7 linked regions of the Homo sapiens genome follow. The protein of the gene in region 2 interacts with the protein of the main gene of each other region in a biochemical or structural test. Each region holds a gene or a part of one and is shown on either strand. Other genes may lie near its edges.

Region 1 (3,500 bases), on a different chromosome or scaffold from region 2:
GGAGCAGGTACCTGTGGGGGGGTCTGAAGGGAGCTAGGGGGGCGCAGCAGGGGAAGGTGCCTGTTGGGGGGGGTCTGAAGGCAGGTGTGGGGGTGGTGGGGGCAGGTACCTGTGGAGGGGGGGGTCTGAAGGCAGGTCGGGGGGCGGCAGGGGAAGGTACCTGTGGGGGGGTCTCCGGTATCGGGATCTTCTTCAGCACTAAGCTGAGTCCGGCTGGCTCCCGCAGCAGTTCCCTCACCATGTTCTTACGGGGCCATCCCACCTGGGGGACAGAAACACTGGCTGGTATCAACCTGGGCAGGAGGCTCTAAAGCAACCACCAACTCTCACCCTCGTGCTGGGAGCTCTCTCTCAGCCTCCCACTTCTGCCTCCCACTCATGCAGCCTCCTGGGGGCTTCCATGGGCCCCATCACCTGGGCTCTGCAGAGGATGCTCTCACCAGACTTAGCTGGCTCATCTCCTGGAAGGCAGCTCCCACAACCCTGGTCAGAACCCTTGGTTGCCTCCCCACCCACCAGACTTGGGTTCCACTCGGTGACCCCTTCACCTCCTACCATGTCCCTCTCCTCACGCACCACCACCTGCTCGTTGATCTGGACAACCTCGTCTCCAGGCTGGATCTGCAGTCGGGAGTCAGTGGGAACCTGACGTGGGGAATGGGGCCTGAGGTTGGCCTGGCTTGCAGGTGAGAGGCCTCGGGGATGGGCGGCTGAGAAGGGTGTGGGGCTCTCACCTGGGTGTCCACTTGGGACACAAAGTGCTGGCAATTGCTGGTGGTGTGAATTTCTAGGCCCTGCAGAGGCAGAGGCTATAGTCACCGGGGGCTGGGGGGCAACAGGGCCAATAGGCAGGACCCCCGCCAGACACCAGGACTCTATGGTGGGTGGAACTGTGGCAAGAGCTGACCCCAAGCTGGTCCTGCCCAGACTTGCTGTATGACTTTGGACTTGCTACTCCTGTGGGCCTCTGCCTTCTCCTCTGCTAAGAGCCAGAGGGAAGCTGGAGACCCTGATTTCTGAGGTACCAGCTTCTCAGCAACATTCCTAAAGGGACAAGCAGGGACAGGGCAGGGATAGGGCTCTGGTCTTCCCCACTGGTCAAAGATTAAACCAAGAAAGGTCACATCCTCTCCCTTTCTCCTAACTGCCCCCAAGCCCCTGCCCCGTCTCCATCCCAAGGCTGGAACACACTACCTGAGGCCACACCCGCGTGGCCCCTCAGGACTGGGGAGGTGCAGAGCAACGGGAGACCCTGGCCAATCCTCTGGGCCTCCATTTTAGCATCTGTACAAAAAAGGCTTTCCAGCCATGGCAGCACAGGGTTCTGTGGGATCCTGGACCCTATTTCAGGGCCCAGACAAGGCTGCCAAGGGGTCAGAAGTGAGAGGTGGGAGGGCAGGGCTCACCAATGGACTGTCCAGCTGCACCTGCTCGAGCACGGCCTTCTGTTCCAGCAGCTCCTTGGGGCAGCAGACCAGGATGTTGTGGCAGATCCCAGCCACGTGGCTGCACTGGGGGAGGGGAGCGGGCTATGTAGCCTGAGCCCGATCGCCCCTACCCCCACTCTCTTCCCACCCCACAGACTCACGATCCTCAGGACTGTGCCCTCCTTCTCAGCCGCTGGACCATCCTGGAAGTAGAATGAGAGAGCAGGGGCCTCCCCTGAGCAAGGGCCATAAGGGGACTGCCTTCTCCTGGGGGCAGGGTGGGATTCCGTACAGTCCCTCCCTGCCTTCCCTACACTGGCCCCCTGCCCAGAACCACAGGGCCTCAGCGTTTTAACCAGAGGGCTCGTTTCCCTGATACCAGGCCCCCAGAAGTCACCACACGTGCCCTCCCCTCCTTCCCTGTCCTGAGTGTCAAAATTCCCCTGCCAGCTAGGGGACCCCAGGCCCCATTGTCCCATACCCAGTGGCAGGGCCTCCTCTCCTCCTTTCTCGCCCGTCTCAATCCTCATACTCGATCCTGGGCTGATTCACAGGTTATAAAAAGCTCTAGCCCAGCTTGGTCTCTAGGGCATGGGCCAAGCCTGGCCCTTGGTTCTCCTACCTCATGCAAGACCTGGCTCAGCTCCTCCAACAAGTCTCGGATCTCCTGGCATGCTGAGAAATCATTTAAGTGGGAGAAGAGGTACCTGGCAGGGGAAGAATAGCACAGTGGTTAAGGGACTATGCTTAACCACTCAGAGCCAATTACTCACCAATTACTCACCTCAGAGACTTGGGGATAATACCTGCTCTGATGGGTTTTGGTTTAGAGTAAAGGAGATGATTGAGACATCTAAAGAGATTAGCACAGGACTTATTTGTCATGTGCCTACCACATGCCAAGCCCTGTTCTAGGCACTGGGGAAACAGACAGTAAAGACATCATACATCAATATCAATTTAACTTTGGCTGTAATGAGTATCATGAAACATTGGATAATGAGTTTATAATAAGTTATTATTTATTATTTATTAATAGTATAGCTTGGAGAGTGTACAACAGGGAAGGCTTCCCCGAGATGACATTTGAGGTGGGGTCTGTAGGACAAGCAGCAGCCAGTGCACAGGGTTGGGGAGGCTCTCCATTCAGTGGTTGTTGATGAGATCGATTATTACAAGCTGGAGGGTGGGGTGGGAACTCTGGCATCCCAGTGCCCCTGCACAGGTGGATTAATCCCTCTGCCCTGCTCCACCATATCTTTTTTTTTTTTTTTTTTTTTTTTGAGAGGGAGTCTCACTCTGTCGCCCAGGCTGGAGTACAGTGGCATGATCTCGGCTCACTGGAACTTCCACCTCCCAGGTTTGAGTGATTCTCCTGCCTCAGCCTCCCCAGTAGCTGGGATTACAGGTGCGCACCACCACACCTGGCTAATTTTGTATATTTTTGGTAAAGATGGGGTTTCACCATGTTGGCCAGGCTGGTCTCCAACTCCTGACCTCAAGTGATCTGCCCGCTTCGGCCTCCCAAAGTGCTGGGATTACAGACCTAAGCCACCACGCCTGGCTCACCATATCTGAACAAGAGCCAAGATCTGTTTTTCTCTCCCACGCCCTGAAGGAGGCCAAGGATGACAATAGTCCCTCACTCGTCACCCCAACCCGGGTACCTGCTGAGCCAGAAGAGGAGGGCGTCAGCTTCATGCAACAGCTCCACAGCTGCACAGAGGACATCAATAGGGGTCTTGGCACAGTCCCCCAGGCAGCCTTGGACTATGCTCTGGAAGTCATGGGTTGCCCCCAGAAGTCCCTCTGTCAGGCTTTGCAGGTTCTCTGTCTGTAGCCTGGAGCTCTGTGCCAGAAAGAGGGCAAGTCACCTCCCTGGCAGCAGCCAGCCCCCCATCACACCCCCCAGGTTGGTGGAAGCTGCAGCCAGTGTGACCAGCATTCACTCACCAGGGCCTGGAGCTGTTCCACCCCGCCCAGGATGAGCTCCTGGTGTCCCAGAGACCGCACAGCCAGAGCCTCGAGGCTTTGGGGGCAGAGCTGGAGCAGGTTCTTGCCAGGCAGCTGCCA
Region 2 (2,890 bases):
CACGCTGAAGTGTTCACAGATTGCCACGCTTCTGAACATACACACACACATACAGACACAGACACATAAAATGCCAACCTGAGTAAAACGTTACTAAAAACCTAGAACATCATGAATCACTAATTCACATATTGCACCTTTAAATAATCCTTCATACCAAATACAGACATGAGAAAAAGGATAATACAGGGACAAGAAAAGGATTTCTGCCACTGTAGGATTCCTCTGCTTCTCCCATTCCCACCCACAGAAATTCTCAAGGTGATATTTGAGTCGCCATTCTCACCCAACCAATGGGTTGAAAATGTTGCCAACAGAAGAGTCTTTGGAGAAAACTGGGAGGGAAAAGGGAAGAAAAAATGGAGCACAAATGTACAGGGGGCAGGGGAAGCGGAGTCGGGGCAAAGAGGCCTCCCCTGATCAAATGAGAACAGAAATGTTACTGAGGAAGCAAACCTCTGATGCTAAGCTACTGTTTAAATATTCCGTATATTCCAATTATGAGATTCAGTACAAAAATATAGATCTCTACTGAGTTTTGCCTGTGGAAGCATAATTCAGAAAAGGCACATGTTCAAATAGAAAACCCATTCGGAAGAGGTGCCACGTACCCCTCCCTGCGCAATCATCATCCACAATTAGGTATTTTCCATCGGCTAGATTCCAAGACACAGTAGGTAAAAATAGACCTCTGATACTTAAAATATATTCAACCCAACACAATCCTGGCTTTAGCATGTGAATCATATAAAATAGTCTTTTTTAAAAAAGAAATTGTTTTGGAAAAAAAAATCATAGCTCCCTTTTCCTGGTTTTCCACAATCCTCAAGGGGGAAAAAAAAAAAAAGTGACCTCATCCCATTGGTCATCAGGAATGCAGATGATTTGCTCCCCACCCATCCACAGCCCCCGACAGCCCCAATTTGTCATCTATCATATGCAGCTTCATGCCCTCAAAATTAGTTCTCACAAAACAGAACAAAGAATTAAGATATTAGACATATAAAAACATGTCGACATCGGGGCATGTGCCTTCGCTGTGGGTGCGACGGTCTGGTTCACTCCAGAAAGGTTATTCCTTTGGAATTAGGCGATGTAACCATTGGTCTTTCCAAATGTGGTCACGGGCGCAAGGTTTTCATAGATTGTCATTGCAGTTGTGTTCTGGTAGATAAGATCTACTTTTGAGTCTTTCTGGGATCTGACAATATCCAAAACACACTGATTGAGGAAAACATACTGGTCCTGATAGAAAAACGAAAGAGAGAGACAGAAAATGAACATGGGTCCCAGAAATTAGCACCCAAAATTATTTTCAAACAGGTCATTCCCCCGCCCAACTCCCAAACCCCATCCACCCAACAGCAAACGGTTCAAGCGAACATGTTTCAAGAGGTAACAACATTGCAGTGAAATCTGAAATCACAGAAGCAAGATGTCCTTCCTCAATGATTCTCAACCAGAAGAGCACACTCCACACCTCCCCTCCCCAAGGAAAAATGCCACAGTCTCAGGGAAGGGCAAAGGAAGGAGGAAATGTAGAGGAAAAAATGCACACACACATTCGAACAATCAAATGTCCAACAAGATTGCCTTGGCTAGTGAGACTGTACAGAGTAAGAATCAACTGTAATGCTCAACCGAGGAGCGAGGTTAAAAGGAGATGATCAGGTGGAGCTGGATGAGGACTATCCTTCAGGTAGGTATATCAGAATCTGTGGATAGTGATGAAGAAAAGAGGAAACAAGGGTATAAGCTGACACAGAAAAATATCCATGATATTATAAGAGGAGAAAAAAAATCACAGAGAAGCAACATACATAAAACAGGATCTGGCCAGGCGCGGTGGCTCCTGTCTGTAATCCCAGCACTTTGGGGAGGCCAAGACAGGTAGATCGGCTCAGGTTAGGAGTGCGAGATCAGCCTGGCCAACATGGTGAAACCCCGTCTCTACTAAAAATACAAAAATTTGCTGGGCGTGGTGGCACACACCTGTAATCCCAGCTACTCAGGAGGCTGAGGCAGGAGAATCGCTGGAACCCAGGAGGTTGAGGTTTCAGTGAGCTGAGATGGCACCACTGCACTCCAGCCTGGGCAACAGAGCAAGACTCCATCTCAAAAAAAAAACAGCATCCAATTTTTTCAAAGTACTGTGTGTGCGTGTGTGTGTGTGTGTGTTTACAGATGTACATAAAGAGTCTTATAAAGATGTACACCAAACTATAAACATTGGCTACCTCCAGGAAGCAGGATTGGGGAAGGAAGAGTAAGAGAAAAATATATTGAGGCCAGGCACGGTGGCTCACACCTGTAATCCCAGCAATTTGGGAGGCCGAGGCGGGCGGATCATGAGGTCAGGAGATCGAGACCATCCTGGCCAACATGGTGAAACCCCATCTCTACTAAAATACAAAAAAAAAATTAGCTGGGCATGGTGGCACACGCCTGTAGTCCCAGCTACTTGGGAGGCTGAGGCAGGGGAATCGCTTGAACCCAGGAGGCAGAGGTTGCAGTGAGCCGAGATCGCACCACTGCAATCCAGCCCGGTGACAGAGCAAGTCTCCGTCTCAAAAAAAAAAAAAAGAGGAGAGAAAAATATATTGTCAAATGCTTTCATATGAATAAGTATTGTTTTCAAAATATAAAAAAGAGATTAGACTCTAGTAGCAGGGATAAGAGTTCTATGTTTCTCAAAAAAGGATAAAAGATTGAGAAATACTACTTTATATAATTATAGCAGAAAAAAGAAAATCTCTCTTTTGACCAACACAGGAGTTGAATTTCACTCTTTCCACAACAACCACCAAGCTCACCCCAGAGCACGCAATGTACCCAGGCATCTAGAACATTCCCTGCTAGACTCAAAAACACAGCACATATTCATAGAGTT
Region 3 (3,500 bases), on a different chromosome or scaffold from region 2:
TCCACGGTTTCCTAGGAAGAGAAACTTGATCTGATTCAATCCTGACGATGATTCAGAATCAAGTCACTTTGCCTGTCTAACCTCACCCATGGTCCTCATCTGCTGCAGGAGGCGATGCCGCTGCTGTTGTTTCTAACTGCTGCTGTGCTATTTGCACCATCTCTTTGTTTCTGATCTTCCTTGGGCTGAGACTCAGTTTGTTAGAACTGTGTGTAAAACAGGAATGAATAGGCAGTGAGGTCCTAGTGGGGTCTCCAACGAGCTGTGTACAAATTTGGTACTTGGGATGCGTGACATCTGTTTAGCTGCTCAGATGGCTGGTTTTAGTTTCAGTTTGGGATATTTTGTGCCTATTTTGAGGCTACTGGTTAGATTTTAGATTTTTCAGATAATTAAATACGTGATCCAGGCTGGGCGCAGTGGCTCACGCCTGTAATCCCAATACTTTGGGAGGCCGAGGTGAGAGGATTGCTTGAGGCCCTGTTCAAGACCAGCCTGGGCAGGACAGTAAGACCCCGTCGCTACAAAAATAAAACATAAAATAAAAAAAAAATGTGATCCAGGAGATAGTCAACGAACAAACCTAAAGGAGGAAGGCCATTATCTGCTACATTCTCTCCCACCCCTCTCTCCCTTCTCTTCCCTCCCAGCCCTCCTCTCCTTTCCATCTGGAGCCAGAGGGGCTCTCCAAAGACTTCAGCCCCAGCCCCAAGCTGGCTAAAGCTCCTTCTTATTCCCCCCTCTCTTTCCTGATCTAGAAATCTGGGGGTCTGCCATCCCTGGGGCTGACCCTGGCCAATGTCACCAGTGACCTCAACAGGAAGAACGTGACGTGCTGGGCAGAGAACGATGTGGGCCGGGCAGAGGTCTCTGTTCAGGTCAACGTCTCCTGTGAGTCTCAGTGGCAGCTCCGGCACCCACCCCCTACTCATCTCTTCTTCCCTCAAAAGAGGATGTAGGGTGGGGGGCTGGAAGAAAGGGTGGGATGTGTGTCTCCACAGCTGCTCCCTCCCAGCTGTTTCCAGATTCCCATGAAAACCTGATCCTTTGGGGGAAGTCCTGGGGTCTTGTCAAGGCCAGAGGGATGGAGATGGATTTCTTTCTGGCCCCCTGCCCGAGCCTTGCTACCTGAGGCCCTCAACGCCAGATGCCCGGCTGTTCCCACTGCTCCGAAGTATTTTTTCATGCCCGTCCCTCATCGGGTCCTTCTCCCCGCATCCTAGTTTCAAAAGAGGAAATTCTCCTCCTGAGTTCCTCTTTACGCTCGCTGCCTAATTTCTCTAGATCAGCCAACAAATTATCTTAAATATTCTACTTTACATCAGTTTTCTTCTTTTATTGTGAAATATACATAGAAATGTGCAAAAAATATATATATTTTAAACAATAATTACTCTTACCAGCATCACGGAAGATCCCCCACCACCCAACACCTCTCCCTGTTCGCAATCCCATCCCACTCTCCCATCTCATGTTGACTTTTGTCAGGATAACCATTTCCTTGCTTTTAAAAATAATTTTTCTCAAATATGCTTTCCTATCGGTATCATTTAGTTTTGCCTGTTCTTGTACATTATATAAATGGAATCATACTGCGTGTATTATTTTGTATCTGGTTTCTTTCATTCAACATTATATTTATAAGATTCATTCATGTTAATGGGAGTTGCTATATGTAGCTCATGCAATTCATTGCTAAATAGTATTCCTATGTATGAATGCTATATTATATATATATATACATATATTTATGCATACATACACTTTTTTTCTATCATTGAGGGGCTTTTACTTTTACCAGATTGGGTCTATTTCTTTTTTTTTTTTTTGAGATGGAGTCTCGCTCTGTCACCCAGGCTGGAGTGCAGTGGCGCGCTCTCGGCTCACTTCAAGCTCCGCCTCCCAGGTTCACGTCATTCTCCTGCTTCAGCCTCCTGAGTATCTGGGACTACAGGCGCCCTCCACCACGCCCAGCTAATTTTTTGTATTTTTTTAGTGGAGACGGGGTTTCACCGTGTTAGCCAGGATGGTCTCGATCTCCTGACCTCGTGATCCGCCCGCCTCGGCCTCCCAAAGTATTGGAATTACAGGCGTGAGCCACCGCGCCTGGCCCAGATTGGGTCTATTTCAAACGCATATCTTTTTTCAAAAAGAGTGTGTGTGTGTGTGTGTGTGTGTGTGTGTGTGTGTGTGTGTGTTTGAAGAGATGGGGTCTCAGCCTGTTGCCCAGGCTGGAATGCTTTGGGATCATAACTCACTGCAGCCTTGAACTCCTGGCCTCAAGCGATCCTCCCACCTCAGCCCCCTGAGTAGCTGGGATTACAGGAGCAAGTCACTGTGCCTGGCTTTTCCCCAAAAATTTAACTGTATATATTTTTGGCTGGTTTGATTGTTAGGGCCCCTGACCCATCTTCTTCAGCTTGGTTACACTGACTTCTTCTAGATTCCTTATCCCAAAGACTCCATGTTTAATTGTCATAAGCTGATACCCCACTCCTGTGGGGCTGTGACTTATTTATGGCCCACCACTTATGTTCTTTAAGCCTCTAAATTTTATATGCCTGCTGCCTGATTTATTTAAAATGTATTGTCAACTTTCTTCAAAACATCTCTCCTTGGTGAATTTCCCAGGGCCTGCTGACCTGTTTCTCCCAGGCCTGCCCTTTGATTTCGGGTTCTACTCGCTTTGCCCGTGGACTTGTCGGGTGTGTGCCAGGCTCCCTCCAGCTGCGCCCTGACCTCCTGCTGTTGCTCTTTCTGGCCCACAGTCCCGGCCAGTGTGCAGCTGCACACGGCGGTGGAGATGCACCACTGGTGCATCCCCTTCTCTGTGGATGGGCAGCCGGCACCGTCTCTGCGCTGGCTCTTCAATGGCTCCGTGCTCAATGAGACCAGCTTCATCTTCACTGAGTTCCTGGAGCCGGCAGCCAATGAGACCGTGCGGCACGGGTGTCTGCGCCTCAACCAGCCCACCCACGTCAACAACGGCAACTACACGCTGCTGGCTGCCAACCCCTTCGGCCAGGCCTCCGCCTCCATCATGGCTGCCTTCATGGACAACCCTTTCGAGTTCAACCCCGAGGACCCCATCCCTGGTGCGAGGGCCATCCTGAACCCTGCCCCCACTCCTGGGCTCCTCCTGGGTTACAGCCAACTTCCTGCTATAGCCCTGACCCCAGAAATTGGAGTGCCTGGTTCGGGACAGAAAGGAGTCTGGAGTCCTGGTGTCCCGCTGTTCTGGCCTCCTTACCCTCTCCCCAAGCCAGGACTCCTGAACTCCTGAGCTATTCCGTCCTTGTCGGCTGGCTGAGGAGACAGCCATGCAGCAGGGCATCCTGGCCCAGCTGGAAAAGGGTCACATGCATCTTCTTCCTTGAGGCCCAGCAGCCCACCTCCATCCCCCCTCGTCCCATGAAGGAATGAGTCCCAGAGTAGGCAGGGGACTCACTGCTTTCCTCCTCCCTCTGACTGCTTTCTCTCCTCCCTCTGACTGCTTTCTC
Region 4 (3,500 bases), on a different chromosome or scaffold from region 2:
AAGGGATTATCAGGTATATTCACGTTACTGGTTGGGGGACTTCTACTAAAATACCAATTAGAATAATTGCTCTATATCCCTTATTTATAGCGATACTTGACTAGCAGAATCAGTTCTATGTTCAAGACACTCCCAATTTGTGAAAATAAATCCATTTTGTTTGCATCCAAAATAATGCTTTTTTTTTTGTTCTCTCTGTGTCGAGAGGCTACAGAGTTCATTCAAAAAAGGTATTAAGCCAGGTGTGGTGGCTTGCACCTATAATCACAGCATTTTGGGAGGCCAAAGCAAGGGGACTGCTTGAGCCCAGGAGCTCAAGACCAGCCTGGGGAACATAGGCAGACCCCGTCTCTACAAAAAATAAAAAAATTAACTGGGCTTGGTGGTGTGTACCTGTGGTCCCAGCTACTCAGGAGGCTGAGGTGGGAGGATCACTTGAGCCCAGGTGGTTGAGGCTGCAGTGAGCCATGATCATGCCACCGCACTCCAGCCTGGGCAACAGAGTGAGATCCCATCTCTAAAGGAAAAAAAAAAAAAAGAGAGAGAGCGGAATTAAAGCCAGGTGCAGTGGCTCCTGCCTGTAATCCCAGCTATTCGGGAGGCTGAGGTGGGAGGATTACTTGAGGCCAGAAGTTTCAGGTTGCAGTGAGCTACAATCATGTGCTGTACTACTCCAGCCTGGGTGACAGAGTGAGATGTGAGACTCCATCTCTTTAAAAAAAAAAAAAAAAACCAGGCTGGGCGCAGTGGCTCACACCTGTAATCCCAGCACTTTGGGAGGCGGAGGCAGGTGGATCACAACATCAGAAGTTCGAGACCAGCCTGACCAACATAGTGAAACTAAAATTAGTTTCTACTAAAAAACACGTCTCTACTAAAAATACAAAAAATTAGCTAGGCATGGTGGCGGGTGCCTGTAATCCCAGCTACTCGGGAGGCTGAGGCAGGAGAATCGCTTGAACCTGGGAGGTGGAGGTTGCAGTGAGCTGAGATCACGTCACTGCACTCCAGCCTGGGCAACAGTGCGAGACTCCGTCTCAAAAAAAAAAAAAAAAAAAACCCAGCCTGTGTGACGTGGTGAGACCCTGTCCCTACTAAAAATACAAAAATTATCCAGGCGTGGTGTTGCCCACCCATAGTGCCAGCTACTCAGGAGGCTGAGGTAGGAGGATCACCTGAGCTATGGGAGGTCGAGGCTGCAGTGAGCCATGATTGTGTCACTGCACTCCAGTCTGGGCCACAGAGTGAGATACCATCTCAAAAAAAAAAAAAGTATTATGTATTTAAACAAATATGAAAAAGGAGGTAGCCCAGGACACATCCCTGATTTACCCACTAGAAATTAATTACTGACGGGGCACGGTAGCCCATGCCTGTAATCCCAGCACTTTAAGGGGCTGAGGCAGTGGATTGCTTAAGCTCAGGAGTTTGAGACTAGCCTGAGCAACATGGCAAAACCCTGTCTCTACAAAAATTAAAAAAATACAAAAATTACCCGGGCCCTCTCATTCACAGCTTCTCAGGTAAAAAAAAAAAAAGAAAAAGAAAAAGAAAAAAAAAATAGCTGGAGGCTGGGTGCGGTGGCTCATGCCACACCTGTAATCCCACACTTTGGGAGGCCAATGCAGGCAGATCACTTGAGGCCAAGAGTTCTAGACTACCCTGGCCAACATGGTGAAACCCCATCTCTACTAAAAATACAAACATTAGCCAGGTGTGGTGGCACACGCCTGTAGTCCCAGCTCCTCGGGAGGCTGAGGTAGGATAATTGCTTGAACCTGGGAGGCAGAGGTTGCAGTGAGCCGAGATTGCACCACTGCACTCCAGCCTGGGCGATAGAGTGAGACTTCATCTAAAAAAATAAAAATAATAATAATAATAATAATGATAATAATAATAGCCAGGCGTGGTGGCACATGCCTGTTGTCCCAGTTACTCAGGAGGCTGAGGTGGGAGGATTGCTTGAGCCCGGGAGGTCGAGGCTTCAGTGAGCTGTGATTTTGCCACTGCACTCCAGTGGCACAAGAGAGCAAGAGAGCAAGAGGGCAAGACCCTGTCTCAAAATAAAATAAAATAAAGAAAGAAATTATTTGCCATGCCTGCTAGCCCTGATTCTTGATATTGCTTGATATTGTCATGAGGGTTCTATGTGGGCATGAATAGCTAAGGCTCTTTATTGAACATGGGCAGCTTTGTCATTAATCAAGTCTGGGTCGGGGCAAAGGCGAAGAAAATGTTTTAAATGATTCATTTTTTTTTAATTTTATTTTTATTTTTATTTTATTTTATTTTATTTTTGAGACAGAGTCTTGCTCTGTCGCCACGCTGGAGTGCAGTCCCGGGTTTAAGCAATTCTCCTGCCTCAGCCTTCCGAGTAGCTGGGACTACAGGTGTGCACCACCACGTTCAGCTAATTTTTTGTATTTTTAGTAGAGATGAGGTTTCGCCATGTTGGCCAGAATGGTCTCGATCTCTTGACCTCATGATCCACCCACCTCAGCCTCCCAAAGTGTTGGGGTTACAGGTGTGAACCACTGCGCCTGGCCTTTTATTTTTATTTTTACAGAGACAAAGTCTCACTATGTTGCCCAGGCTGGTCTTGAACTTCTGAGCTCAAGTGATTTTCCCATCTCGGCCCTAGGATTACAGGCGTGAGCCTCCAGCCCTGGCTATTCTAAATGATTTCTGACAGATTTTGCCATGAGGTGGTCCAGAGTACAACAATGGTCTGCAGTAGAATAGTCTGCTTGTTCTTTTTTCTTTTTTACTTTTTGTGCTCTACATGTTCAGAGAAACTGAACTAAAGAAATGATCCCTAAAGGAAGTATAGTCTTGTCTGCTGTTTTTTGTGTTGCTTTGTTTGTTTTGTTTTGTTTGAGAGAGGTTCTTGCTCTTTCCCCCAGGCTAGAGTACAGTGGTATGATATTGGCTCACTGCAACCTCAACCTCCTGGGCTCAGCGATCCTCCTACCTTAACCTCCTGAGTAGCTAGGACTACAGGCGTGCACCACCACACCTGGTTAATTTTTGTATTTTTTGTAGAGATGAGTTCTCACCATGTTGCCCAGGTTGGTCTTGAACTCCTGGCCTCGAGTGATCCTTCCACTTTGGCCTTCCAAAATGTTGAGATTACTGGCGTGAGCCATTGCATCCGACCACCTGCCTGTTCTTGATGTAAAGCATTGGCCCAAGAAACTCAGCCACGAAGCTGGCACACATTTTGGACAAAATGTTCAATAAATCAATAGGTCTATAGTTGGAGGAGAAAAAATGTTAACTTAAAAATTTTTTTTAATTTAATTTAATTAATTTTTTCTTTTTTTGAGACAGGGTCCCCTGTCGCCCAGACTGGTGTGCAGTGGTATAATCACGGCTCACTGCAGCCTTGACTTCCTGGGCTCAGTGATCCTCCCACTTCAGCCTCCTGGGTAGCTAGGACTACAGGCAAATGCCATCACGCCATCATGCTTGGCTAATTTTTTTTTTTTTTTTTTTTTTTT
Region 5 (2,515 bases), on a different chromosome or scaffold from region 2:
CCTTAGTTGTACATAAATACTTTTGTGTCAACAAAAACTTTCAGCTCTCACAGAAGACAGTTACTCAACATTTTTTGATGTGCCACAGTTTCGAGTTTTTCGATATTTAAATTTTTTGGCTTTTCATCTAAGTTTGGGTTTGTATTTTTTCCTTCTAAACTCTTCATGTGGCAGAGTCTTCTATGTTTTCACAGCTTTTTCATTACAGAAAAGAACACTTGCTCTTCTGTGATTATTGTCATGTATTAGGCTAATGCTGTGTTGTCTCCCACCTGGAACTGAATTGCTTGGTGGAACATATGCTTTCACTGTTTGTGCAATATGCATTTATTTCTTATATGAATGCTTTAAAGTCATTTGAGGTTAGATCTTTTAATTCCTATTTTCTGCTTCATTGGTCACTTTTTTTTTATTGTAGTATAAGATGTTAGATTCTGTAATCTTCACATTCATTTTAGCAGGTACTGAGTGATGCTGTATATACAAATAAGTGTATTGTTTTGATTTTTAGACCACCACATGGCATGCTTGACTATTTCTTATTTCAAATGTCTGCTAATGCAGAGTAGGCTACTCCATGATAGTGTTAAAAAACAAAATTTGCTAACAATGTGATATAAAGACTTTAAAAGTTACACATTATGTGGAGCCCTATCTTTACAAAAGTTTCCTACTGTAAAGTGCTTTTATTTTCAGTTTTCACTTGATAGTACTCAACCATAATTAAAGTTGCATAAGATAATTGCTTTACATTTCACATACCTATATTTATCTGAGTGCTGTCTAAAACTGTTGTGCTAGCCAAAGTAATGCTATGAAATCATTTGCAGAATTAACCCGTGAGTTAATGTTAAATGCACTGTTATTGCCATGTGAAGAGGCATCGACTTTGATACCACCATCATGTTCAGACCATTTTATACATTTCAGTGGCCTTTTTTTTTTTTTAAGGAAAAAAAAGCGCAAAACCAAGTACATAGTGACGATGGCTTTTATTTGGACAAATAGCTTTTATATTTTCATTAAACCATGCAAAAAATACTACATCTTTCTGGCACATAACTGTCTCCTTAACCACTGAACAGTTCAGCCATTTGAATAAATTGTACATTGTAAAGCTTATAGTAGCTGATTGTATTATTGATTGTATTGTATACTATATTAAATGTGAATTTGTACCCCTTCATTTTAAAAGGTCATTGTGTTCTACTGCCTATTTTAGATTACTTTGGGGTTGGGGAAGGGTGTTTTGGTAAGCAGGATTTTAAGTCCTCTCTCTCTCGATTGGTTTTATGAAGATATAAGGTTATGCTCTTACTACCAAGCTCAGGATTCTTGATTTTAAAGGTACAAGGATAGTTGTGGGAGTTTTATTTTTGGTTATATTTGAACTGTATGAATGGTAGGTCTGAATATTGAGAATTTCCATGGTCTTATGTGGAGGTAAAATATACAGATAACTGATCAGTTTGAGTGACTGCAACATGTTCTGGTTGCACAACAGTTAGGCATGCTATGGTTTATATTTGTGAAGTTTGGATGCCTGTGAAGAATGATTAAATACATGTTTCTAATATTTTAGTGTTTTGTATTTAGGTTATTTATTCTTTGTATCTAAAACTGAACAGCTACTGTGCTATATTGATTTTATTGGTAGTATTGAGCAGACCTTGTTTCTGCATGAAACTAGTTGCAAAACCCACTATTTTGGAAATAAAAATGTATTTTGACATATACAAATAAAATGAATAAAACTATTTTAAATGTGTGAACTTTTAATGAAGACATTTTAAATTTTGTTCTGAGATATTTAAATTCTGCATGGGTATTTTTTCACTAATTGCTTTACTTGGATACCAATTTGAATAATTTCTGAAATTGTAATATTGTGATAATTTGCACAGCATTGTACATGCACATCTGTAAATGCAATCTTAATTGCCATATTTATGCAATCTGTGTACCAATTTGGACAAATGTTTATATATTTTACATAAAGCTGTCTGTATGCAGAATCTGAGAACTAGTTTTTTTATGATAATAAGTGGGTAAAAATTAATAACAGTGAGTTTCAGGGTAGTTGCTTTGTAGCACAAGATTTCGCTTCCATAAACATTGTTTTTTTTTTTTTTCTTAAAGTAAACCTGTGCTTTTTCTTATCTGCAAACATAGGCTTAGCGATACATATAAAGGTAATATTCCATTGAAACATACAGTTTACTTTAATATTAGATCATTTTCCAATTTAGATTTGTCCAAGGTTCGACCTGCTAACACATCTATAAATAAGAGGCACTTTTAGCCAGGCATGGTTGGGAGGCCCAGGCGGGAGGATCACCTGAGGTCAGGGGTTTGAGACCAGCCTGGCCAACAGGGCGAAACCCCGTTTCTACTAAAAATAAAAAATGAGCCAGGTATGATGGTGCAATCGCCTGTAGTCCCAGCTACTCAGGAGGCTGAGACAGGAGAATCACTTGAACCAGGGAGGCAGAGGTTGTAGTGAGCCAAGATTGTG
Region 6 (2,564 bases), on a different chromosome or scaffold from region 2:
TCTCCCTGGGGCTGGCGACAGTGGACATCCAGAACCCTGACATCACGAGTTCACGATACCGTGGGCTCCCAGCACCTGGACCTAGCCCAGCTGATAAGAAACGCTCAGGGAAGAAGAAGATCAGCAAAGCTGATATTGGTGCACCCAGTGGATTCAAGTGAGAGCCACTCCCCAGTGGACCCACAGATTCCTGGGGGCAGAGGGGCACATGAACAAGTGGACAGCTGAGTGAATGGAAGGATGGGCAGATGGGCAGATGGCTGGGTGGCTGAGTGGGTAAATGGGTGGTTGGATAGGTAGGTGCAGGGCTGGGTCTAGGGAGAGGTAAATAAGGCACCAAGGGTACAAAATTTAAGGAGGCACTCACTCTCAGAGGCATGCAACTGTAATTCCTGACTCTCAGAGTGAGTGACTCACTTAAATTTTGCACCCTAGGCACCTTACTTGCCTCACCCTGGGCCCACTCTGGGTGGGCTGTTAGGAGAGCAGGTGGGTGGGCAGGTGAACAAATGGATAGATAGATGAGGTAGATGATGGATGAGAAGGGCTGGTGGGTAGGTGGGTGAGTGGATGGGTGGATGGATGGATAAATGAATGGATGAATGAATGGGTTGAAGAATGAATGGATAAGTGGTTGGATGGACAAGTTTATGGGTGGATGGGTTGATGGGAGGTGCGTGGATAGATAGATGGGTGAGTGGATAGGTGTGTGGACAGATTGATATGCAGGCTGATTGGCTCACAGACAAGGTGGATGGGGATGGACAGGTGGACAGATACGTGGATGAATGGACAGTTCAATGGATAAGTGAACAGAAGTGTGTGGTTGCATGGGTAGAAAAATGAGTGGATGGATAGATGGAAAGGTGGGCACATGGGTAGGTGGATGGGTGGATGGACAAGTGTGTGTGAGGACAGACTGGTGGACAAATGGGTGAACAGACATATGTGGGCAGATAGTTGCAGAGACAGATGTATGGACAGATCAGTAGTCCAACAGATGAATGTGAATGAATAGGTGGACAAATGCATGGGATAGATGGGGAAAGAGGGATGGGTGGATGGATCAGCACCACAAACTATGGAGCCCTTCTAATTCCATAACTCCTGCCTATACTCATTCACTCATTCAGTCTCATTCATTAATTCTGGCCCCTCAGAGTCTCTTTGGGCAGGAGAGGGCAAGAGGGTTTCACTATGAAGGGAGGGAAGGAAGGGCAGTGAGGATTCACTGGAGTCTCTTCACCTCTCCCAGGCATGTCAGCCACGTGGGGTGGGACCCCCAGAATGGATTTGACGTGAGTAACTTCAGAGTCTCTTGGACTCCACTAAACTTCCACCCACCCTTCCAAAGACCACTGCTGAGACCCCACCCCCAGATCGTGCCCTTCCCACACCCCTCTCAGATCCCTTGCTGGGATGGACCCAACGACAATCCATGTCGCTTGTCTCCTCGCCTTATTCCTCTACTCCTGCCCCTGGCCTTTTTCCTCCTGGGCAGGTGAACAACCTCGACCCAGATCTGCGGAGTCTGTTCTCCAGGGCAGGAATCAGCGAGGCCCAGCTCACCGACGCCGAGACCTCTAAACTTATCTACGACTTCATTGAGGACCAGGGTGGGCTGGAGGCTGTGCGGCAGGAGATGAGGCGCCAGGGTGAGACCCTGCTTCCATACGCTCCCTTCTCTAGCCCAAGCAGCTCATAGCTAAGATACGCACTAAGTCACTCAGTCCTTATGGGAGCACCTATACTGCTTCAGTCAGGAGTTGGTCAGTGGGGGTACCCATTTTACAAATGAGCAAAACTGAGGCTCAGAAGAAATCAATGAGAGTTACAGCTATGTGTTATACCCCCTCCACAGAGCCACTTCCGCCGCCCCCACCGCCATCTCGAGGAGGGAACCAGCTCCCCCGGCCCCCTATTGTGGGGGGTAACAAGGGTCGTTCTGGTCCACTGCCCCCTGTACCTTTGGGGATTGCCCCACCCCCACCAACACCCCGGGGACCCCCACCCCCAGGCCGAGGGGGCCCTCCACCACCACCCCCTCCAGCTACTGGACGTTCTGGACCACTGCCCCCTCCACCCCCTGGAGCTGGTGGGCCACCCATGCCACCACCACCGCCACCACCGCCACCGCCGCCCAGCTCCGGGAATGGACCAGCCCCTCCCCCACTCCCTCCTGCTCTGGTGCCTGCCGGGGGCCTGGCCCCTGGTGGGGGTCGGGGAGCGCTTTTGGATCAAATCCGGCAGGGAATTCAGCTGAACAAGGTGAGGACAGGCAGGATGGAGGATTGGGGGTCTAGGACTCTGGGGTGTCCCGTCTAAGTCAGGATACTGGGGGGCTGAGGCCAGGACTGAGGAGAGTGCCAGGCCTTAGGGATTCAGTGATAGGGTTGAAAGGTTGGTGGGAAGCCTTGAAGGGGACTGGAGTGTGTGGGAGAGAAAATATTGATGGAGGGGCGGGGAGAAATGCTCCTTTCCCAGGCCCTAAGCCCTCTGTGCTGATCCCTGCCTGCTGCAGACCCCTGGGGCCCCAGAGAGCTCAGCGCTGCAGCCACCACCTC
Region 7 (3,500 bases), on a different chromosome or scaffold from region 2:
AAATAACCGAAATTGTATTTTGACCAAAGTGCATTCCCTCCCCACCCCCTACTATTATGTAAGGAGAGGGTGCTGCATCTGGTGTCTTATGTATTATACTGAAGAGTCTAAGTTGGGAAAGCTAAATATCCAATTATTTTAATTTTTACCTGTATTGTTTTTGGAGGGAGATAAGGGAGCAGAGTATTGATGGAAAACAAGGGAAGAAGAAACTAGGGGCAGCTAGTATTCAGCCAGAAAGTAAAATTATATACATTATTGCAGCAGTAATGCATTTATAAGCTGAATAAATCAAATCTAATTTTGTGACTAGTTCTGACATGATATGAATTTAAAGAAACTACTACCAAATTCAGTTTAATAAAAATTTTAGCATTTCTATGACCTTGAGTATTTGGATTAGGTTTAAATTAGAATCGCAGTTTTCTTCCTTTTCTTGTAAATAGGCAAAGTAAATTTAATGTAAAAATTTGAAACTCGCTTTAATTTTTGAAAATGCAATTATTGGCAATTTTTGACCTTAGTAATTTCCATGCTGTTACCCAGGGATCAATTTAAATAATATTCATACCCTGGATGATGCCAACCATCAGGTAAGTCTAGTCTCTTACCTGACTCTTTTGAAATATTAAGGTATTTTGAGAATGCTCTGTAATCTAATGTGTTTTTCTTTCTGTTTCAATTGAGCAGTAATTCCCTACCTTGCTTAATTCTAAAATGGACATCATATCTTCATTCTTAAATGGAAGGTAAAATAGAGGTTACTATAGGGTTATTTTAGGGCATAAATGCCTATGGTATTGTATGTCAGTTTGGGAAGTTTGCCTTCACGCCTTCAAGTGTACAGGGAGATAGTTACTCCTTCAATGTGTGAAATGATTCTGTAGTGCCCTTCCTGCACTGAAGGGGGAAGAAGAATCTGAAACATAACACCAGAGGACTAGGTATGTTTGGAGAATTAAATAACTATTTCACAGCCAGACAACACTACAGACAGCTGCAAATAGAGAAAAGAAGGAAAACTTTTAAGATACGTGGATGTAAGCTTTCATTCTTACATCAATGGAAGTGATGATAGCAGTCAGCAGGTCAGTTCGATGCTCAGTGATAAGAAATAACAGGGTTATTTCAAGGTAAGGTAATCAGGCTCTAAGTTGCCAAGAACAGTAATTCATGTACTTGCTGGTTTCAGTTCAGAAGTTGCATAACATTCAAATATTTCTTACCTTGTCACTTTAATAATTCAGTGGAATTATCTTAATTTAGTGTGCTATGTTACCATTACTAAATTGGGGATGTTACATGATGGTGATCTTCAATTAAACTTAGGAATGTTGCAGACATTTTCTTCATCATTGACCTGTTGTTTTTCCTTTTCATAATTCAGATTTGTTTGATATACCAATAAATGTTGGCTATATCACTGATCATTTTATTATTCATAGTCTTGATAACATTATAGTTTATTATGACTCATATATAATGATTCATTGCAGCTGATAAAATGTTGTTAGGGATTGTATTGTGAGATTTTATTACTACCAAATATATAAATTAAAATGTGGAAGTGTCTGAGTTATTGTAAGTCATGTGATTGCAAAGCATTTTTCCTGAATGGAATAATGCCTGGTGACTGGGTGGGTGCCAATCCAGGTAGCTAGATATAGAATAATACAGTCTTCACAAAATCCAGAACTCACAATATAGGGTAGGGAGGGAGGGGGCCAGGGGAAGCACCTTTCTTTGACATCTGAGGCATGTTTGACTTCTATAGTTTCCTCTCCACTAAATATAAATTGGGTGAGTTGCAAATATTTAATGGTGTTAGTACTGCTCTTCCTTCATCTGTGCCCCTACACTGCCCCCACCACCCTGCCACAACACACACACACTATGCCATCACCACATCTGTGAGCTTGGCAAGGCAGAGGAAGCTCCTTATGGCCTGAGACCATGTACATAAAATGTAGACATTGGTGTCCTGTATTCCAGGTTGAATTTAAAACAGGTATGGGGTTTGACACAAAAATGATACTGTATATGAAGGTTAGGTAAAATATGTATTTGAAGTGAGGCTATCAGGGTACTATGCAGGCTTTTGGGGCCTGGCCCGAAACTTGGAATGCAGTTTTTCATAGAAACCCACAATCAGTTTACAAATAGACTTTTGAAACACTGGCTAGGTGGTATCTGAAGTTTTGGCCCATTGCAAGCTGTGTCTGAATTGCAAGCATGAGGGAAGTAAAAAGCATCCCAAATCAGAAATTAGGAGATCTGCCATTAAACCTTATTACCTTGACAAACCATTTAATGTTTGGATGATAGCTTCCTCCTTTTAAAAATACAATTTGGATTATATTGATCTAAGTTATATTTTAGCTCAAGATTCCTGAAGTTCACAGTGGTTTTTAAAAATTTTTCTTAAGAAAAAAAAAAGAACAAAAAACTTTTCCAAGCTTGAATATACATAATCAGCCCTGTTTCCCCTTGTACCTCAAATCATGGCAACAAGGAAGTTGAATTTCTCTTTTGAGACTTTTGAACCTTCTTCACATTCATTTTTAATTGTTTTGTTTTAAAACAATATCATTTTGGGAAGTGAGGGGAAGGGATGAAGCACATGTTTTCAAAGTCTTGCTGTCTGCCTCTACCCTAGTCTGAGATTACATATGGTAGTTTTGGCCAGGGAAAGTGCTTGGGATTTCACCTTCATACTCAGTGAGGCTCATGAAGTGTCATTAAGGTAGTGAGGTGTCATGATTAGCAGCCTTACTGTCAGGGTCCAATTCTGGCACTGCAACTTGCTGGCTGTGTAACCTGGCAGATTGTATAATCTCTGTGGTCCTCGTTTTGCTCATCTGTAGGATGGAGTGATAAAAGTACCCACTTCATATGGTTGTTGGGGAGATTAAATGAATTAATACATGTAAAGTGCTTACAACAGGAGCTGGTTCAGAGCCAGCGCTTAATACATTGAAATAATTATTTTTACATTGTGGTGCTTTTATGATGGTTTCTGCAGCATTTACCAAATGCCAGGGAAATTATTGGCTTGCTTTCTGTGTGGGTTTTGTCAAAATGATTATGGATTTCAACAGGATATTTCAGAGAAGAAATAAACTGCTGAACAGAAACCATTGTGAGCTTGATAGTTTGCAGGACATTGTAGAAAAGAGAATCCAGCACAGTAATTAAGGGCCTTTTTAAGTAGGGAAGTTGTAGCTTCTTGCGGTAGGCAATACTTAGAGAGGCATTAACCACCGCTAGCCAACAAGTATAGGAGAATGTATACAATTATTGCGTTTGTAATCCCAGGTAGTAGTCATTTTATAAAATGTCTTTGCTAGTCAGTACATGAATAAAGCGTTAGAAAGTGTTCATCATTTAACACCATTTGCCCAAATGCAGCTTGTAAATTAACTCTTTAAGCTGGCTTTTCTGTCTGAAAGTGATCACAGTTGAAAAAAAAAAAAAAAAGGATATTTGAAATCAGCAGGAGA

The links.
Region 1: the proteins of PTPRJ (region 2) and CNKSR1 form a complex in vitro, tested with the Homo sapiens proteins (one large-scale study listed by BioGRID).
Region 3: of the proteins of PTPRJ (region 2) and NTRK1, one has a biochemical effect on the other in vitro, tested with the Homo sapiens proteins (one large-scale study listed by IntAct).
Region 4: of the proteins of PTPRJ (region 2) and LCK, one has a biochemical effect on the other in vitro, tested with the Homo sapiens proteins (one large-scale study listed by IntAct).
Region 5: of the proteins of PTPRJ (region 2) and PPP1R12A, one has a biochemical effect on the other in vitro, tested with the Homo sapiens proteins (one large-scale study listed by IntAct).
Region 6: of the proteins of PTPRJ (region 2) and WAS, one has a biochemical effect on the other in vitro, tested with the Homo sapiens proteins (one large-scale study listed by IntAct).
Region 7: of the proteins of PTPRJ (region 2) and PKP4, one has a biochemical effect on the other in vitro, tested with the Homo sapiens proteins (one large-scale study listed by IntAct).

What each region holds. Positions count from the first base shown.
Region 1 is NC_000001.11:26,180,491-26,183,990, reverse strand, and holds part of CNKSR1 (connector enhancer of kinase suppressor of ras 1), read right to left. Parts: coding exon 3,381-3,500; intron 3,277-3,380; coding exon 3,095-3,276; intron 2,135-3,094; coding exon 2,050-2,134; intron 1,631-2,049; coding exon 1,589-1,630; intron 1,512-1,588; coding exon 1,407-1,511; intron 795-1,406; coding exon 735-794; intron 646-734; coding exon 577-645; coding exon of another isoform or gene 556-576; intron 263-555; coding exon 161-262; intron 1-160. UniProt on the Homo sapiens protein: May function as an adapter protein or regulator of Ras signaling pathways.
Region 2 is NC_000011.10:48,165,559-48,168,448, reverse strand, and holds part of PTPRJ (receptor-type tyrosine-protein phosphatase eta isoform 1 precursor), read right to left. Parts: intron 1,246-2,890; coding exon 1,087-1,245; 3' UTR 1-1,086. UniProt on the Homo sapiens protein: Tyrosine phosphatase which dephosphorylates or contributes to the dephosphorylation of CTNND1, FLT3, PDGFRB, MET, KDR, LYN, SRC, MAPK1, MAPK3, EGFR, TJP1, OCLN, PIK3R1 and PIK3R2. Plays a role in cell adhesion, migration, proliferation and differentiation.
Region 3 is NC_000001.11:156,870,865-156,874,364, forward strand, and holds part of NTRK1 (high affinity nerve growth factor receptor isoform 2 precursor), read left to right. Parts: intron 1-758; coding exon 759-891; intron 892-2,768; coding exon 2,769-3,095; intron 3,096-3,500. UniProt on the Homo sapiens protein: Receptor tyrosine kinase involved in the development and the maturation of the central and peripheral nervous systems through regulation of proliferation, differentiation and survival of sympathetic and nervous neurons.
Region 4 is NC_000001.11:32,257,765-32,261,264, forward strand, and holds part of LCK (tyrosine-protein kinase Lck), read left to right. Parts: intron 1-3,500. UniProt on the Homo sapiens protein: Non-receptor tyrosine-protein kinase that plays an essential role in the selection and maturation of developing T-cells in the thymus and in the function of mature T-cells. Plays a key role in T-cell antigen receptor (TCR)-linked signal transduction pathways.
Region 5 is NC_000012.12:79,773,068-79,775,582, reverse strand, and holds the end of PPP1R12A (protein phosphatase 1 regulatory subunit 12A), read left to right. Parts: 3' UTR 1-2,015; downstream 2,016-2,515. UniProt on the Homo sapiens protein: Key regulator of protein phosphatase 1C (PPP1C). Mediates binding to myosin. As part of the PPP1C complex, involved in dephosphorylation of PLK1. Capable of inhibiting HIF1AN-dependent suppression of HIF1A activity.
Region 6 is NC_000023.11:48,686,799-48,689,362, forward strand, and holds part of WAS (actin nucleation-promoting factor WAS), read left to right. Parts: coding exon 1-157; intron 158-1,255; coding exon 1,256-1,298; intron 1,299-1,501; coding exon 1,502-1,655; intron 1,656-1,861; coding exon 1,862-2,268; intron 2,269-2,521; coding exon 2,522-2,564. UniProt on the Homo sapiens protein: Effector protein for Rho-type GTPases that regulates actin filament reorganization via its interaction with the Arp2/3 complex. Important for efficient actin polymerization. Possible regulator of lymphocyte and platelet function.
Region 7 is NC_000002.12:158,459,952-158,463,451, forward strand, and holds part of PKP4 (plakophilin-4), read left to right. Parts: intron 1-3,500. UniProt on the Homo sapiens protein: Plays a role as a regulator of Rho activity during cytokinesis. May play a role in junctional plaques.